Linked DNA regions of Homo sapiens: region 2 is linked to region 1. The links come from fine-mapping of genetic effects on gene expression. A gene starts in region 1. The other region holds a variant in brackets. All regions are shown on one strand. Distances are from middle to middle. Region 1 holds the start of TMEM87A (transmembrane protein 87A). Region 2 holds the start of VPS39 (VPS39 subunit of HOPS complex).

Region 1 (9,739 bases):
TACCATTCCTTTTCCCAACTATATATCTGTATGAGGTCATTATTTTCTACATGTACTTAAGCCAAATTATTGCAACAGACTGAGTGAAGGAGGGAATATAAGAATACAGTGATCTTCTGTTATGCCAGATAGTAAACAAATTTACAAAAATACAAAACAATCCTACTCTTCTGTGTGGTTTTCTGGGAAAAACAGTTATTTATATTAACATGCAATAAGTTTATTATTGCTACTTTAAAATAAACTAATAAATATTTTTATATTTTCTCAGTTGTAATTTCTAATAGCATAACCCACATGCTCAAAGGCTTTCTGGAGTCCACAATAATTTTTACAAATATAAGAGTTCTGAAACCAAAAAGTTTGAGAATTGGTGGTCTGCAAATTGGGAAGCATGCATTCTAGTTTCAGCTCTCCTCCTCCATAGCTACATGATACTCTTTCCTCTATGAAATTAAGAGACTGGAACCAGATAATCACTAAGGTCCAAAAAAACTCTGTAATTTTATGTTCCTTACCTTGAAGTTATAGATTTCATTGTAACAATCAGCGCTTTTCAGATACCAGGTTATATTCAAAGACAGGTCACAAGGTTCTCCATCAACTACAAAAGAAGAAATCTTTGTTAACAAAAGATAATTCCCCAACAAAGCATTTTTCCTAAGCTGTTAACCTATATCCTATTCATTTCGTACCCTAAACTGAGATACTCAAAGACCATCCTTTCTCCAAACATAAGGTATTGAAATAATACATGCAAAAAGAGCTGGATATTAAGATAAAAGTATTGTTGTTCATAGAAAAATAGCAGGTAAGCAGTTTTTAACCTCTGGAAACTGTGGATCTATTTTTATGCCATAAAGTCCTAACTTCTGGATCTCTATTGAGAAAAACCTGGGAGTGATAAAGCACTCTAAATTCAAGCCAGTCTTCTATTATTTAAGTATTTATTGAGCAGGCTAGGTGCGGTAGCTCACACCTATAACCCCAGAAGTTTGGGAGGCCAAGGCAGGGGGATCGCTTGAGCCCAGGAGCTCAAGACCACCCTAGGCAACATAGTGAGAACTCATCTCTACAAAAAATGATTAAAAAGCTAGGCGTGGTGGTACATGCTTGTAGTCCCAGCTACTCAGGCAAGGGAGGCAGGAGGATCACTTGAGCCCAGGAGGTCAAGTCTGCAGTGAGCCATGATGGTACCACTGCACTCCAGCCTGGGCGACAGAGCGAGACCCTGTCTCAAAAAACATAAATAAATAAATAAATAAATAAATAGCACAAGTATTACAAAGGTATAATGGCACACTGTTAGGCTAAAGAGGGAAACGAGTGGAAACAAATTATTAAGACCCTTCAAAAGGCTAGTTGAAGAGACAAGCAATAATAAAATTAGGAATGCATGTCACAAGGCAATATTAACAACTGTTAAATGGTGTTAAATGATGATATACATAATAGTTCCACTGAGAGCAAAATTGCTATCTCAGACCTTGAAAGATATCAAGATAGAACAGAAAGAGCAATGAACGAAAAGCAAACATGGCTGTGGAAGGTAGAAATAGCAAAAGCAAAGATAAGAGTATCAGATTTTTTTTTTCAAAGCCTACCTTAAAAGAGGCCTCAAGGAAGCTCATGTTATCATGGAAGCTTCATAAAGCTCATTAAACACAGTTTGGAACACAGTATTCTAATGGATCAAGACATTATTCTGAAGACTTGGGAGGGTAAATCTGACTATATGACTGATTAGCTGGAGGAAGTCAGTATTCGCTTTTATCTTTGATTCTAGCTATGAAAGGAAAAATATACTAAAGACTCCCTACTTTATATAAATGTAATAATAAACATGACAAAAATAAACATGACTGCATTTAGGAATCTACTTTTCATTCATAACAAAAGAAGCAACCTAATTATAAGCTTCCTTTTTTTTTCTTTTAAACTGTTTTCTCAAACTAATTTTTAGATGACCAACACATTTTCAAAGGACTCTATTAGAATGTTCAAAAATTTGACCTGTTGGATAGAATTTATGGAAATGATAAAAAGCAATTGGGCTATGAACTATTCAAAATAATCCATACAGGGACAGGATTAACTAATAAAAAGCCAGTAAGAACACATCCCCCAAACAGGAGACTTGTAAGGAAATTTGGCAGCAAAAATACTGCTGTTTATGTTACAAGACAATATTTAGAACTTTAAATGAAAGGCTTTAAGAGACAATAAGGTCGGGCGCGGTGGCTCACGCCTGTAATCCCAGCACTTTGGGAGGCCGAGGCGGGTGGATCATGAGGTCAGGAGATCGAGACCATCCTGGCTAACAAGGTGAAACCCCGTCTCTACTAAAAATACAAAAAATTAGCCGGGCGCGGTGGCGGGCGCCTGTAGTCCCAGCTACTCGGGAGGCTGAGGCAGGAGAATGGCGTGAACCTGGGAAGCGGAGCTTGCAGTGAGCCGAGATTGCGCCACTGCAATCCGCAGTCCGGCCTGGGCGACAGAGCGAGACTCCGTCTCAAAAAAAAAAAAAAAAAAAAAAATGGTCCCAGCTATTCCATGGAAAGCTATATACCATCCCCCAAAAAGTACAAAATCAAAGACAACTGGTAAATATGAGAAAGCACAGAAATAACAAAGAAAAAGATAATGTTAAAGTGTCTCAGGCCGGGCACGGTGGCTCACACCTGTAATCCCAGAACTGTGGGAGGCCAAGGCAGGCAGATAACTTGAGGTCGGGAGTTCGAGACCAGCCTGGCCAATATGGTGAAACCCCCACCTCTGCTAAAAATACAAAAATTAGCCGGCGTGGTGGCACGCGCCTATAGTCCCAGCTACTCGGGAGGCTGAGGCAGAAGAATCGCTTGAACCCAGGAAGCAGAGGTTACAGTGAGCCGAGATCGTGCCACTGCATTCCAGCCTGGGCGTCACAGCAAAACTCCGTCTCAAAAAACAACAACAAAAAATAAAGTGCCTCAAATCCTCCAAAAACAATGAAATATAAACACTTCAAAATACGCAGTTAGGGCTGGGCATAGAGACTCATGCCTGTAATCCCAGCTACTCGGGAGGCTGAGGCAGGAGAATCGCTTGAACCTGGGAGGTGGAGGTTGCAGTAAGCCAAGATCGTACCACTGCACTCCAGTCTGGGTGACAGAGTGAGACACCATCTTAAAAAAAATGCAGTTGGTTTAACTTGGCAAAACACCACTAGATCAAACTACACGAGAAAAAAAGACTGGACCTAATAAAAGAATAAAACAGCAAACAGGCTGTCAAGCTATTCCAAAAGACAAGGGTTACTAGGTTACCCAGTAAACCAATCTCACAAGGCCAGTGTCAGAGTAGATTTGATCTAAATCAAATATAAGTCACTGGTCAGGAGACTGATTACATATTCATGGATACAGTATATATTCTTCAGAGAAATTCTACCTGCTGTTTTCACTCCCACTAGAATGTAAGCTCGATGAGGGAAGAACATTTTTCTATTACTTCCCCACAGTCTATGCAATAAGTAATAATTACTCACTAAACAATTGAAAAGAATAAAATTATCCAACTATGACTTAAAATTTTGCACTTCCGTGAAGACAGTATGCATAGAATCACACATCTATCATCAGGATTTTTATCCCTCATCTAGAAATAAAGCTGCCCACGATCAATCGTTCTCTAAATTAAAGCCGGTTTCAGAACTAAAAGGAAGCTTTTACTGAACACACAATGGGATACTTTAGATTCAGATACAGTCATTTTTCCACTAGACAAACTAGTTTTGTTCTACATAATCCCTATTTCTTGATAATATCTGAGCTTCCTCTTCCAAAGCAGTAAAATACTCCTTTTGTAAATAAAGGATCTACTAAATATATTCCTTCACAGCCAACGGCCTGACAAACCTAGGTCATGTTTGCAGTAAACATTTAACAAGCACACAAGAGTAAAACCTCTTTAATCTACACAGAACAGATTAAAACCACCATGCAGGGAATCAACCCCAACATAATCACAGTCATTCACTACATAACATTTCAGTAAATGAAAGACTACATATACAACGGGGGTCCCATAAAATTGTAATATCGTATTTGTACTCTACTTTCCTATGTTTAGATATACAAAAACTTACCATTGTGTTACAACCACCTATAGCATTCAGTACAGTAACATGTTATACAGGTTTATAGCCTAGGAGCAATAGGCTGTACCATACAAACTAGGCGTGTAGTGCCATCCAGTTTTAAGTATACTCTATGATGTTTGCATAATGACAAAATCACCTAAGGATGCTTTTCTCAGAAAGTATCAACTGTAAATGTAATTCGACTGAGATGTGACTGAATATTCAATGTAGTATATACAGCATATATATTAATATATACATTATATATACTAATATATAATGTCTACATAGTGTATATATGCAATGTAAACACCAGAAAAACAAGAGAAGAAAATAAAGTTCACACGAGTACTTTGAAGATGATTCAGTAAAAGGACCTTAGTAATACTAAAAATATTTATACCTAGATAATGCCAGACTATTAGATTTCAGAACTTATAAAATAGGTAATTTAAAACATTACCTATAAATTTTTAAAATTCAAATTAAAACTTCATGAAATTCAAAAACTCACACTTCAGGAAGATAGTGGTATTTCTGAAGAGGATCTTTCCAAAACTAAAATAATTTTTCCCCTGCAAACATAAAGGAAAGATAATTAGCCTCAGATGGCTTCAATTACCAAAGCATCATATAACTATCTAAGACTGCTAGAAATTCCAACTTAACTTAAATCTTTATGGGACGTACCCCTTAATCAGTTCATTCCCTTTACTCACCAATCACTGCTCAGAATAACCAATCATTTTTTCTAATGAACTATTCTGTGTGCAAATAACCAGAGTTTTATTTTCAAATCTAAAAAGACTTAACTATTAACCATTTTAGTAACAAGTAAAAACCTAACTGAACACCTGAAAATCTTCACCACTGAACAAAAGGTATAACGTTTACCATAATAAAAGCCCAAATAAGATTTGGACATTACAGTCAGTGAGCAGAGCAGAATGAAACAAAAAGGCCAACGTAGGTTTAATGGGGCTAATGCTTTTCAGCATTTCCTCCCTGCATCTGGTTTTTGTCTGCTCACAGGACTATACCTGTTACTGAAATAAGGTTTAAAATGGGTAAGGGGCAGAAAGGGTCAACCCATGTAGTTAATTATCCAAATGAAAGACTAGCCTTACCACATTAAATTTTAAGTACTATTTCTTCAATTTTAACCATTCCCATGTTAAAACACATTTCTTAAATCTCTATGCTTTCTAGTCACACAGTAAAGCTTAGAATAGCCATTCCAAAGTTGAAGCGAAGTCGAACCATCTCGTAAGCAGAATTACCCAGGGACCAAGAAGTGCAGAGGAAGAAAAAGAAAGAAAGAAATGAAGACTCCTATTTACATATCTTTCTTATCCAACCCGGGGACACTGGATTCTGTGAAACATCTGAAAGATAAACAACTCTCCGTTTGTACATCAAGTTTACATCTCAAGTCAGGCACTGAAAGTTCTGTTTTTCTGATGAGAAGCCGCTCCACCACTCCTTTCTGTTGCTGAAGTGGCCCTTACATTCCCGCTAGCCTAATCACAGAAGTGCGCGGCTTTCCACTCCAGGGAGGTGGGTCCCAGTTGGCTAGCCACACAGACCATCCCAGCAACCCCACCCCTTTTGAAGAGACTTTTGCGGAACCTTCATGGACCCCTTGGGCCGCCGTAGCCCCACCCCTTGCTCCTCTAGGTTCAGACGTTAGTGAAGTGAATACTCACCGACGGTATCGGAATGTGCCATTTGGACCGGTCGGCAGCAGCTACGGTTGCCGGTCCCGCACTGAAAAACGACAGTGGTGACGGGTGAGCTCCCAGAAGCAGAAGAATGACAGGCAACACCTGAAGCCACGCAGCCGCCGCCATCTTCACAGCCGTGGAGTGCCTACCGAAAGCATTTCACCCTCTTCCGGTTCGTCCCGCCTTCTTCCGGCTCTGCTCTAAGGGCGGGATTATCCGGGTCCTGGAAACGTCGCGGAGCTTGTTTGCTGTGCGGCGTAGCGGCCCCTCTCTCAGACAGTCGTCTGTGCGCCGTGAGACTTTGGACCTACTGCGCAGGCGTCATCCTGTTGGAACCTGGTCAGCTGGGTTAGAGAGATCGCTACATGCCAGCCTGGCCTGAGTCTTTTCTGTCTCCCAGCCGTTAAAGGTTTTAGGACCAGGCAGGCACCCCGTGCAGGATTTGGCTCTCTACTTCCGCTCGCCCCAGCCCTTCATCCCTTCTAAGTCAATGTCAGACTTTGGGGCCAGAAAGTCTGGAAAAGCCCTAAGCCTGGCTGCCCAAGTGGCGTCTAGTAGTGAGTTCTCCGGTTTGGGTGGTATTTAAGCAAAGGCTGGAATTCGGCGGTGGTGGAGTACACGCGATTCCTAGACTGGGTAGTGTAACAACCTTCAAAGGCCCCTTCTAGCCCTGAAGAGTACGATGCTGCAGTACAATCTGGCTGGAGACCTAGCCTCCAGCAAAGACCCGGCCGGCACTTCCCACCCTTAACCGAAAACGGAGACAGAGAGGGTCAGTTTTCAAAATCTGTGGCGTGACCCCGCCACTGAGATAGATCTGCAGATGCTTCGTCCCAGTCAGGGAGGCCGTCTCGGCATTTCCAGGTTCTTAACGCTCTTGATTTTTACCCTCTAGGACTCATTGCGTACACGCCCTCACCGCCGCCCAGTTTCGGTTCCTAACAAAAGCACGTTCCTCATCAGCCACCCATAATCAAGACAAATTTGCCAAATAAATCATTGTAGAAACGCTAGTTTGGGCCTGAAAAATTCCAGGAGCAAGAGTCAAGATTTGTCACTCCATGAGAATCTGGAGGGGACTCCCTTCCCAGAAACTTGACGATGAAGTACTGGTTGTAATTTTAGAAAGACACCCAATCGGCTTTTTTAAAAGATCGCCCAGGGCCCTTGTCCTGAGAGCTGGGAGCTGGTCGGAGTGACAGAGAAGCCATGGAAGCAGCAGTGAAAGAGGAAATAAGGTAAAGGCCAAGTGCTTCTGTAGCGAGTGACCCCAGGGTCCCTAGAAACAGGGAATAGTGTTTTAATTGCATTTCTTATTTGCGTATTTGGTATTTGCTGACCTTTATCTTTTCTCTCAATTCGCGGGAAGTTAGTTGATATTAATAGCCTCTCATAAAATACTTTCAGGATGGTTAAATAGGCCGGGTGCAGTGGCTCACGCAGGTAATCCCACAGCACTTTGGGAGGCTAAGGTGGGAGGATCGCTTGAGTTCAGGAGTTCGAGACCCCCTCCCCGCCCCCTCGGAGTCCCAGCTACTTGGGAGACCACTGGGAGGATGGATTTGGAGGCTGCAGTGGAGCTGTGATCTTGCCACTGCTTGGGCAACAAAGTGAGACCCTGTCTCCAAAAAAAAAGGATGGTTAAATAACATTAACAGTGGAAAAGTTGCAATCAGAACTCTTAACACGTGAATTTCAGGCATGTTGCTTTCCAAATTCATCTATAATCACCCCTTCCTATATCATCCCAGAGTTAATTCTTCGAAGCTGTAAAGAGGAAACAAAAGATTCTCCAATCTTTGTACACTTGATTAAAATAAACTGGGCCGGTTCGCTCATGCCTGTAATCCCAGCACTTTGGGAGGCCTATAGGTGGGCAGATTGCTTGAACCCAGGAGTTCAGACCAGCCTGGGCAACATGCTGAATCCCTGTCTCTACAAAAATTTTAAAGTTAGCCAGACGTGGTGATGTGGGCCTGTAGTCCCAGCTACTCAGGAGGCTGAGGCAGGAAGATAGCCTGAGCCCAGGAGGCGGCAGTTGCAGCAAGCCAAGATCGTGCCACTTCACTCCAACGTAGGAGGCAGAGCGAGATCCTGTCTCAAAAAAAATTTTTTTAATAAATTAAAATAAACGGACAAAGACTGAGTTCAGTGAAGGACAAACAGTTTTTTAGTATGGCCAAGTATATCTGCCTGGGCTTGTTTTCATAATATTTCGACGTTTGTGTTCAGTCATAGCTTTCTACATAATCATGGACATGCTGACTACAGATGCATTCGGCCACACTAGTGCATGAAAGCCGGTGTAATTTTTTTTTCTCCTTATAATCTGTAGTTGTTTTAATCAGATGGAGGCTAGTTTAAATACATATACTCAAACTTCAATATACATATATCTCATTCATGTTTTATCCCAGAAACAGCTCTTCTGGAAACTTGGTTTTAAAAAACATGGCCCCTAGTTTGTCACCTCATCTTAAAAAGCAAGAAATTCCCCTTCTACGTCTGTTCTGTTCTTATTCTAGCACCTTGCACCTCTATTAAAGCATTTGTCAGCTTGTATTGTGATTGCTGGTAAAACCCTAACTGATAGCTTGAACACAGTTCATATCTTCCTCAGAGCCCAGCTCTCAGGAAGAATATTCTGAAAATATTTTCTTGAATAAATCGGTGGGTGGGTTATGGTTCTTAGTTTGTCTGGTTGGTTGGTTTTGGTTTGTTCGTTTTGGGATGCTGTTTTGGTTTTCCTCCTTCAGATTTTACTTTTGTGGTCATAGCCTTCAGTCATTATTTCAAAAGAATATGTCCTCATAAGTGACAGTGATCTTTTCCCATTACTTTTGGAGTAATCCCAGAACCTGATGTTTTGTTGTTTACCTCAGAGGGTTTACAAAAGGCTATTGTTCTGCAACATAATGTGCTATTATGTTATACTGTGGCCGTGACACAATTTTGCATTGCAGAATAGACTCCAAAGGTTTATTTTGCATGTTCATACTGTCGTTAGAGAAGGTACAAAAGTTGGATTCACAAGCCCTGTGTGAAATAAATTTCTCAAAATGTCTTTTTATTTAGTCTTGAAGATGAAGCTGTAGATAAAAACATTTTCAGAGACTGTAACAAGATCGCATTTTACAGGTAAGGAAAATAAATATAGTAGCTAGATCAAAACATCTCTGACAGTATTTCAAAATTGATGCTTATTAAATTTTTGGAACTGATAGACTTTCCAAGGAAAGGATAATTTAATAATTAAGGAAATCATCAGACAGGAGACTCACTTTTAACTTTATACATTTACTCCTGAAGTATTTAAATTTTTCAATAAACAGCTATTTTATTTTAAAAGCCAAAATATTTTTAAACTAGTTTTAAATTTTGACGCTTTGAATAGATAACACTTTTACATGGTTCAAAAATAATATAAAGAGCTATACATTGAAAAATGTTGCTTCCACTCCTGTCCCCTTCTACCCATTCCTCATCTTGTCCCGAATAACCGAATTTCTTCATTTCTTATTTATCCTTCCAGTATTTTTTTGTAAATACATGTATTTTTATATTATTGCTTTTCTCTTTTTTTAATCACCCCTTTTTATACCAAATAGGTTTTTTTTCCTGCTTTATAGTTTGTTCTGAGGAGAAATTCATATGAGTGCATGGAGATTGTTTCTCCTTTTTACAGCTGCATAATATTCCATGGGGTAGATATACTATTAATATAATTTATTCAGTCTGTCTCTTATTGCTAGACCCTTGGGTTGTTTTTAATCTTTTGCTAAAATAGCACTACCACAATGAAGAGCTATACATAGGTCATTTTCTACACATGCAGGTGTATTTATAGGATACCTTTCTAGGAGTGAGATTACTGGGTCAAAGAGTAAATGCATTT
Region 2 (10,127 bases), 61 kb before region 1:
ATCTTTACTGTGACAAAGTGGAGTTGGTGAGAGTCTAGGAGCACTATGTGCTAATGGTCCAACAGGAGATCAGAGTCAAGGATTCTGACGAGCTAAGTCAAGTGTAGCCACAGCTGCATTAATCCCTTTCAGAAACATATGTCCTTAGCTGAGTTGGGTACCCCCTCATCCATGTTGCAATAATAGGCAGCATATGTCTCTAGTATTATAATCTGTTCACGTGTATTTGTCCCCCAGTGTGTGTCCTAGGAGCACAGGCACTGTTTCTTATTCATCATTGTATTACTGTCCCAAGCAAAGAGAATGGCCCGTGTAGCCACCTAATAAGTATATCTGATGAAGCAATGGGGGAATTAATCCTTTCATGCAGTGTCAGGTCTTTCATTTAAAAACTTTTTCTCCTCCTCTATTTAAATGTTTAATGAGAGCATTTAATGACAGAAATTGGTTTTCTTGAGATGTCTGGAGGAAGTAGGATTCTCCTCTTAACCCAAAGGACTAGAACTGCTTACTGTGGAGGTATGATTTTAAAGAGACCCAGAGCTGCTAAAGGAGGAAGGGTGCACATTAACATGAAAATTCTTCGTGAAAGAACCCTACAGAAGAAGTCATCAAGAACTCTGCAAGGATGACTCGGTGACACTGTGAACAGCTGACGCACATGGTATCAGACACCACCAAGATTCCATAAGGCCCATCATGGTTACCTATCTAGCTCAGTATAAGATCTGATTAAGGGATCTGAATCATCTTTTTATGGTCCTTGATTTCTAGGACCTAAACATTAAGAGGAAAGTTAGAAATGATTTCCTTGGTCTTTGGCGGCTGGTATCAAACCAGTCACTCACGGATAAGAGCACAATGTTCACCGTTATCCCTGAAACCTTCATTTGTATTTCAGAGCACACAAGAGATGTCTGTCCCGGCCTTCTGCACTAGTCAATCCCAAAAGGACTATGCTAGTTTTTATGGGTTAGGTTTCAAGACAGTCTGGAAACTCTTCCGCCTACAGTTAGGTAACTTGGACACTTTGGATATAAGGTAATCAACCGCTTGGCTAGATTCAAAGGTTAGCTAACTACATGAGTTCCCTACAGGAATGAGAAATGAACGAATGATCACTAAGGGGAAAAAAAAGCATATGGTGTTAACTTGTTCAATGCCCCCAAAACCAGGGTTGACTTTCATCTAGAAAACAACACAAACATCTGGACAACTTCAAGCCCCTGGCAGGCTGAGAACTTCTTACTGCTTTGACCCTCTAAAATGAAGTCTTCGTGGGAATCAAAATGGGCCAAAGCTGAGCACAACTAAAAAGGAAAGCTCATCCTCCCACTCTGCACAGAGAGCAAAAGCAAGGGGAACTCCCCTAAATGACTGGATCACTGGGATCACCCAAGTAGCCCCACAGACATCGATGTCTATAGCCGGTGGTCATCTCTCTGCCTTCTCTCATCCTAAGCCCCTCTCGTGTAGCATCCAACCGAAGCCCACACGGATGGACGCCTGTCCACTTCCCCGGCCTCAGAAAAGATCCGGACCGCTCCTGTGCTGACTCCGCCTCGGCCCCGCGGCCCCTCGGCTCACCCCAGGCAGCCAGACAGTCGATTTGCAGAGGCAGCTTTTCTAGGATCGGCACTGGCTCGAAAGCGTCGTGCATGGCGGCAAGGGGAGAGTTGCCACCGCCGTCTCGCCCAGAGTGTTCCGGGCCGGGCTGGGGTCCGGAACGAGTCTGGGCTAAGGGTAGACCGGGATCCGGCCAGGAACCCCCCGGCTACAGGCCCTTCAACAACACAGCCATCGTCAACCCCGGACTTCCTGCTAGTTAGGCCCGCCTCTTCCGCAGCCGAAGTCCCGCCCCTTCCTCCCGGTGCACTCTAAATGAATTGTTTTGTTGCTGAGTTGCCATCGTCACTCTGGACCCATAGCTACTCCATCCCGAGTAGCCATGGGCTTACCATAGAAGGAACAAACTCTTAATCTTAGAACTGCTTTAGGCAGTGGGCGTGATGGTTAAAAACTCGGCCTTTGGCGTCGACCTCAGACGGAGATCTACCAATTAGGAAATTAGCTGTGATTTAGAAAATTTAATATTTCGATGCCATACTTTCCTAATCTGCAAAATTTTTGTAAATACCTGTGACCTAGTGTCGTGAGCGCTTAGCAACACCTGACACCCACTAAGCTCTCAGTAAGTGGTAGCTTTAGTATTACCATTATATCCCAATTAGTACAAGCACCTTACCTTAATGCTTTCATGGTTGTTCTAGGCCAGTGGTTCTGAAAGTGGTTCTAGACCAGCAACAACAGCAGTAGCAGCAGCACCTGTGAACTTGTTAGAAATGCAAAGTTTCAGGCCCATTCCAGTTCTACTGAATCTGAAACTCGAAGGGAACAGCAACCTATGTTTTAATAAACCCCAAGGTGAGTCCATGCACTTAAAAGCTTGAGAACCACCATTTTAGGTTAGGGTTGTTCAGCGATAGCACTACCGGCATTTAGGACAGGATAATTTCTTGTTGGGGGAGGGGGCATGTTCTGTACAATGTAAGATGTTTAACAGCATCCCTAACTTCCACCCACCAAATGCCAGTTATCTTCCCCACAGAGGTATAAAAATGTCTCTTTTCCGTATGTCCTCTGGGAGGCAAAATTACCCTGAGAACCACCATTTGAGGCCAATGCTTTTCAAATTTAACGTGCATACAAATCACCTAGAGACATTGTTAAAATGCCTCTTTTGATTCAGTAGGACCAGAGTAAGACCCTCAGTTGAGCACCAAAAATCTCCCAGATGTTGCTGGTCCCTGGATCACATTTTGAGTAGCAAGAGTTTAGGCAAGAGATGATTCACTAACTCTTGGAAGTCAGTGAAATAAGCCTCCTTTTAATTTGATGACCACATTCCTACCAATTCAACTTTCCAAAGCTGTGTCTTACATCCTAATATTCCTTTAGGAAGGTGTCATGGCTTTTCCTCCTATAGGACCTGGGACCTGTACTGTCTGCGGTTACCTTAGTATTCCCCTTGAAGACTTAAAAAACAACAAAGTTTGGGCTGCAAGAATGATCTATATCTGGTCATTTCCCCCTAGGAAAACATCGTAGGTCAAAAAATTAAGCATTTGGGTTTAAAGCAAAAATGTAAAAGAAAAAGGGTAAGTCTGTGATATGAAGTCAAAAAAACTGGTCCTGGTCATTTTATTTTTACACAATATCAGTTTCTTCATATGTAAATTAGGAATACTTGTCCCATCTTTACCAAATGCTGTTCTGATAATCAAGTGAAAAGTACTTTCAAGTAGTCAAAAACATGAAAATTGCTACACAAATCCTGTGTTATAGCTGATTTTCACCATAGAAGCTGATCACCTTCTTAAAAATTTAGAATTACCAGCTGTTGTGCTGGAAGGTCTAGTACCTTTTCGTTCAGGCCCAAAACCCTAAGGTTTATATTGTTTTACAGATTACTGCAAAGCTATCAATTTCTTCTGAACCTAAGAAATGACACACTATATCTATTCCCAGTAATACAGAAAGCTGTAAGTAGAATTATCAGGGCCCAGGCTATAGAACTTGAACTATACACTCCCGCTTAACACAATGGGCTTTTTTTTTTCCTAGTCTCAAGTCAACATCAAAGCAGCCTAAAAAAATAATTTGACCAACTATCCTGCTGCATTACAACTATTATTCATCTGCTACGTTTTAATATGCAATAGCAGCATGCAACAATACCACCAGCTTTTGGCTAATGACTTAGCATGAGAATATAGTCAGTTCTTCAGATTGCTGTTCCTCAGAGATACTTCCTAGGAAACTTTTTTAAAAATCACCATAGCAAAGAGTTGTAGAGAAACTACCTAAGGGTTAACACTTTCACTGCAGTATGAGTTAGTGAAGATTGTGGTCATGTGGTCATTGGTTTTAACAGAAAATAAGACAATCTAGAATAAAAGCCATAGAAAGAAATTTTTCATGAGTTTGACAGAAAGAGTCTTTAGAAAAAGTTTGAAAAAAATGAGAAAAATACATTAATTTTGTTAAATTTTTTTATATTAAAAAGTGGCATGAACTTTTTATGTAGAACAAAAATCTTGGGAAGGCAAAATTGGATAAAACCATTAAAACAGAAATAGAGTGCTTCAAATGAATCCCATCACCTTGTGATGTCCCTTATTAACAGTCTCTAAACCAATACCAGATACCAGAACAGTCCATCCTAAAGAACGAGCAGCAGTCCAGGGCCTCCACGCTACTTCATGCAATAACTGTTTAAATTAAGCCAGCAGGACCTGTTTCCTTTGTATAAGCTACAACTTCTGAAGCATTACAGTTCCTCTAGCACGGTGCTCAATCACAGCACTTGGAGCACCTCTCTGCATAAAGGCAAACAAAACATTGCCTAAGGACCCTGCAATGCCACCCTTGGAGGCTTACAAAACAGTAGTTAAAAGTTTCGGAGTGTGCACCACATTGCCAGCAATGGGATGTGTCACAATAGCAGATGTCAAAAGAGTTAAGCTAATATTTCTCTTTAAAGTACATCTGAAATAGAAAAATCTTTAATATACACCATTTGTAAACAAAATTGCACTTGATTTTGCTTTTTTAAATGATCTGAATCATACTGTAACAGTTTCTCTTTTTTTTTTTTTCTTTTGATCATTGATAGAACTATGGCTCCTTAACTCAGAAGGGCCCTTTTTTCTCAAAACAACCTCTGCAAGATGTAACCTTGACTTCCCAGGAAAATGAAAGGTAGTTAACAATTTCCCCCATCACCTATGTAACTCCCTAAATAAATAAAAATTACAGGCAGTTGCTCCTGGAGATTACATATTATGGTGTTGATGACAATCTTTTAGAAGACGTTAAACTTTTTAGTTTGTCAGATTTAAAAAATGAAACATTACAGAAAGTTCAGGAACAACACACTTAAGTTGCATGAACATCCATGTCAGAGTCTGGGAGGAAAGGGGGCAG[C/T]AGTGTTGTAAATAAGAAGCTCGTAGATTTTTCTCATCTTATGAACTTGTTTTCAGTAAGATGTTCTCTTTGTTCTGACACCTCTCGCCAACTCCAATGCCCAAAGATCAAGGAACAGATCAGGATGTCATTGCTTCCTTTAATCCCATGGAGCCGTACAGAAGACTGACACAGATGCTGATCTCTTCCCTGATGGTAGCCATCTTTAACTGCAAATCTTCCCATTCCTTACTCCATTTTGGACCTTTCAAAGTGTGTGATCATTCGTTCCTAGGGAAAAAAAAAAAGGTTGAAGTATATTAGGTTAAAATGATCTATATTCCAAATATCTTCTATACAGACTATCCAAGCAAACATCTTCCACGAGTACTTTATGTTAATTAAATGTTTAGAGAAATGGTTCCTAAACATTTGTGAAGATTTTGAACATACAGATGTCCAGACCTCACCCAAGAACAACTAAATCAAAAGCTCTAGGCTTCTGGACAGAAAATCAGCACTCAGAAGGAAATGTATAGAGTCAGCTAAGATCTTATGTAAACAAATATTTACATAAGATTAGGCTTTAATAAAAATGTGTAACTCCTCTAATTCAGGAATTTCACTTGAAGACCCAGTGAAGGATGAGGGCAAAGACGTGCACCTAGTTAGCACTTTGCACTTTAGAATGGTTAGGAGGGTTGATTTGTTATGTGTTTTTTACTACACTTTTTAAAAATCATGTAAAAAATAAAATTACATTTAATTTAATATAGTATTTACAGTATCCCATTTCAATTAAAATAATTAATGTACTACCCTTAAATTTCCCTTCTTAGGCAATTTTATACCTTAGAGTTAATTTTCATTTTTCTTTTGCTTCATTTGCGAAGTACCTCTCACTATTGTATCACAAACTGACAGAACTACAAATCCTTTTTGAATATAATCAATCACATCAGATAATCTATAGATGTTTCCCTTTTTCTTAAAAATATCCTTTCCGATGCTCTCTGTTCTCCACTCCATCCAAGCCTGGTGCCCAGCTGCCAACCTGAGAATTTCTTACATCATACTGGGAATTTTTCTTGTCTCTGTGTTGGACCCTTTATTTCCTAGATCCCAAGTCTTTTTCCTAGCTTCCTCATTTTTGTGGAGAACATTTTCCCCTACTTTCTTCAGAAACTGCATATAGAACATCAATTATTTTACTTCTTGTGTGACTAGAAACATCTTTATTTTACCCTCATAATGATAGTTTAGTTGAGTACAGAATTCTAGGTTGAAAATGATTTTCCTCAGAATTCAAAGGCTTTGTTCTGGCTCCCAAAGATGTTGTTGAAGAGCCTTATGCCATTTTGATTCCTGGTCCATCATGTAAATTGTTTCTCCTGTAATTCATTTAAGGTCTTTTTCAGTTTTAAGGGAAAAAAAGGCCTTGGAGAAAGTGATGTCAGCAAGATGACAGAATAGGAAGCCCTGGACACTCCTTCCCTCTACAGACACACTGATTCAATAACACATGGAAAAATTCCCTTTGTGGGAAATCCAGAAACCAGTTGAGGGTCTTCTGCACTATAGGAAAGCATGAAACCAGCTGAATCAAAGTCGGCAGAAAAACCTGAGGCACCCTCTTGCCATAATTCTTCCCTTCCCATGGACCCAGCACAGTACCACATGATAGAGAGGAAACCCTCAGCTCCCAGCTTCTTTTTGCAGAGGGAAGGAAATGACTGGAATGTACATCCAACATTCTGACTTTTCTGGAACCTGCACGAGAGACTGTTTTCTGTCTTGCCTGAGTCCGAGAGCTAAAAACAAAGGGCCCAGGTTGGAAGTTGCTGAAATCAAAGTGGAAGTTTGGACTAGCAAGCATGAGCTCACTACAGCCGCTCCCCCAGCTCAGTGCAGAGTAAGCAGGTAGAATCCCCAACATCCCCAAATCCTAGCTTTTCCCTAGGGAGGAGAGATGGACTGTGAAAATGTTCCAACTTTGTAAGAGGTTACCTGAGGGAATGGTTTCTGTAGGGAATGGTTTGAAGCACAGATGGGACCAGTATATTTTAGGTGCCTGGGGCCAGTATGAACAAAAAAAGAGCTGGGCTATGCCACTGGCTCCAGGAGACCCATGATACAGCAGATAAACACAAAAGGGAGCAAGAGATTATAAATTCCTGGGGAGGGAAAAACCCAGCAAATCCCTCTGATTGGGAATACATATGCAGAAGTCCAGAAAAGACATAATACAGAGTGGGTTAGAGAGGCTATCAGAATGATTGATGAGGGTGTTCTCCTGTACAATGCCAGTCCATGAACACTGGAAAGGTAACTGTTTTTTTTTCTAATGCAATGAAACCAACACAAAGAATTAAGGAAAATAGAGAATCAGTGAAACATGGCCCAAACAAAGGAAGAAGATAAATCTCTGGAAACCAACCCCAGTGAAACAGAGGTATAGGAATTATTTGAAAGAGAATGCAAAACAACTATCATGAAGATGTTCAACGAACTCAGGAGAACAATGCATGAACAAAGTAAGAATTTCAATAAAAATATACAAAACATTTTTAAAAATATGCCAAGAAACTGGATAACCTAGAACAAAATATATAATTCCTAGAAGTATACAATCTACCAAGACTGAATCATCAAGGAATAGAAAATCCGGGGGGGGAACACACAACCTGGTAAGACCTACAACAAGATTCCATCAGTAATCAAAAACATCCCAACAAAAAAACAGCCCAGGACCAGATGGCTTCTTTAGTTGAGTCCTACCAGGTACTTAAAGACAAAGTAACACTAATCCTTCTTAAACGCTTTCAAAAAAATTAAAGACGAAAACATTTATTTGGAAGGAACTTCCAAACTTATTCTATGAGGCCAGCATTACCCTAATGCCAAAGCCAAAGACATGACAAGAAGAGAAACGACAGGCCAATATCCCTGATGAGCAGACGCAAAAATCTTCAATGAAACAATGGAAAACAGAATTTAACGGCACGTTGAAAGAATCACATACTATGACCAAGTGGAACAAAATAGAAAGCCCAGAAATAAAACTACACATACATGGTCAACTGATCTTCGAAAAGAGAGACAACACTACACAGTGGGGAAACTGACAGTTTCCTCAACAAATGGTGCTGGAAAAACTAGATATTCACATGAGAAAGAATGAAAGTAACTCATCTTCACTATACACAAAAATCAACTCAAAATAGATTAAAGACTTAGACAAGTCAAAATAGATTAAAGAATTAGACATAAGATTTGAAACCACAAAACTCCTAGAAGACAACCTAAGTTTCTTGAAATTGGTCTTAGCAGTGATTTCTTGTCTAAGACACCAAAAGCACAAAACAAGAGCAAAACAGACCAATGGGACTACATCAAACTAAAAAGCTTCTGCACAGCAAGGGAAGCACACAACAGAATGAAAAGCAACCTACAGAATTGGAGAAAATATTTGCATACTACATACAGTCACGTATACTTAATGATAGGGATACATTCTGAGAACTGCATCATTAGGCAATTTCATAGCTGTGTGAACTTCACAGAATATACTTACACAAATCTAGATGTTATATAGCCTACTACATACCTCGGCTATATGTATAAGCCTATTGCTCTAGGCTAAAAACCTGTACAGCATGTTACTGTACTGAATACCAAAGGCAACTGGAATACAATGGTAAGTATTTGGGTATCTAAAGTTATCTAAACATTGAAAAGGTACAGTAAAAATTCAGTATTGGCCAGGTGCGGTGGCTCACGCCTGTAATCCCAGCATTTTGGGAGGCTGAGGTGGGTGGATCACAAGGTCAGGAGACCGAGACCATCCTGGCTAACACGGTGAAACCCCGTCTCTACTAAAAAAATGCAAAAAATTTGCCGGGCGTGGTGGCGGGCGCCTGTAGTCCCAGCTACTTGGGAGGCTGAGGCAGGAGAATGGCGTGAACCCGGAGGTTCTTATGGGACCACTGTCATATATGTGGTCCGTTGCTGACTGAAATGTGGCATAGGACTGTATCTGATCAGGGTTAATATCCAAAATATATAAGAAACCCCTACAATTCAACAGCAAAAAATCAACTAACTTGATTAAAAACTGGGCCAGGGACTGGAAGAGACATTTCTCAAAAGAGGGCTTCCAAATGGCTGACAGGTATATAAAAAAAATGCTCATCATCACTAATCATCAGAGAAATACAAACCAAAACCACAAGGTGTCACGTCACACCTGTTAGGATGGTCATTATCAAAAAACAAAAAATAACAAATGTGGGCAAAGAAAGAAATTGGAACCCCTGTGCATTGCTGGTGGAAATGTAAAATGGTGCAATCACTATGGAAAACAGTATGAAAGCTCCTCAAAAAAATTAAAAAATAACTACCATATAATCCAGTAATCCCACTTCTGCATATATACCTAAAAGAAATGAAGCAGGATCTCAAAGAGAAATGTGCACTCCCATGTTCACTGCAACATTATTCACAACAGCCAAGGTATGGAAATAACCCGTGTCCACTGACAGATAAATGGATGAAGATAACATGTTACATATATACAATGGAACACTTGTCAACCTTAAAAAGGAAGGAAATTCTGACATGTGCTACAACTTAGATAAATCTTGAAGACATTATGCTAAGTGAAATAAGCAAGCCACAGGGGGACAAATGCTGCATGATTCCACTTATATGAGTTATCTAAAATAGAACTCAAAGGCAGAAATAGAATGATGGATGCCAGGCGCTGAGGGAGGGGGAAAGCAAGAGTTGCTATTCAACAGGTATAAAATTTCATTTAAATGAGATGAAAATGTTCTAGAGATCTGCTGTACAACATTGTGCTTATACGTAATAATACTGTAACGTACACTAAAGGAGTTAAGAGAGTAGATCTCATTGTTATGTTTTCTTACCACAAAAAAGCCTTATGTATACCTGGAAAATCTTGCACAGTGTTTTCACAGAGGAAAATATGAACAGATGGCTGAACTCAGTGCCACCAAATTACTATAGCAAACTTGCATTCCCATGAAGGGCACAATCAGGTTTCAATTAATCAGCCTTCTCTGCTTATAGCAGCTCATGGAGAGCTGAAGTACAAGGGAAGCCTTAAAGGCAAATAATTAGCAGAGGAAGACCTCAAG

Evidence for each region.
Region 2: its variant is fine-mapped to the expression of TMEM87A in whole blood (INTERVAL, PIP above 0.99). The same link has a PIP of 0.9 or more in T cells, blood mononuclear cells and monocytes.

The regions. Positions count from the first base shown.
Region 1 is chr15:42,267,429-42,277,167 of GRCh38, forward strand. TMEM87A (transmembrane protein 87A) reads right to left here and starts at 6,005. Exons shown (of 20, transcript NM_015497.5): 1 at 5,827-6,005; 2 at 4,635-4,695; 3 at 519-604. The coding sequence starts at 5,970. GANC (glucosidase alpha, neutral C) reads left to right here and starts at 5,773. Exons shown (of 24, transcript NM_198141.3): 1 at 5,773-7,082; 2 at 8,920-8,982. The coding sequence starts at 7,054. RefSeq lists enhancers at 5,355-5,604, 5,765-5,994, 5,967-7,166.
Region 2 is chr15:42,206,494-42,216,620 of GRCh38, forward strand. It overlaps VPS39 (VPS39 subunit of HOPS complex), which reads right to left and starts at 1,811. Exons shown (of 25, transcript NM_015289.5): 1 at 1,588-1,811. The coding sequence starts at 1,660. TMEM87A (transmembrane protein 87A) reads right to left here. Exons shown (of 20, transcript NM_015497.5): 20 at 3,954-5,256. The coding sequence ends at 5,215. VPS39-DT (VPS39 divergent transcript) reads left to right here and starts at 1,908. Exons shown (of 3, transcript XR_932181.3): 1 at 1,908-2,191; 2 at 2,271-2,424. The variant C/T (reference allele first, on the strand shown) is at 4,987.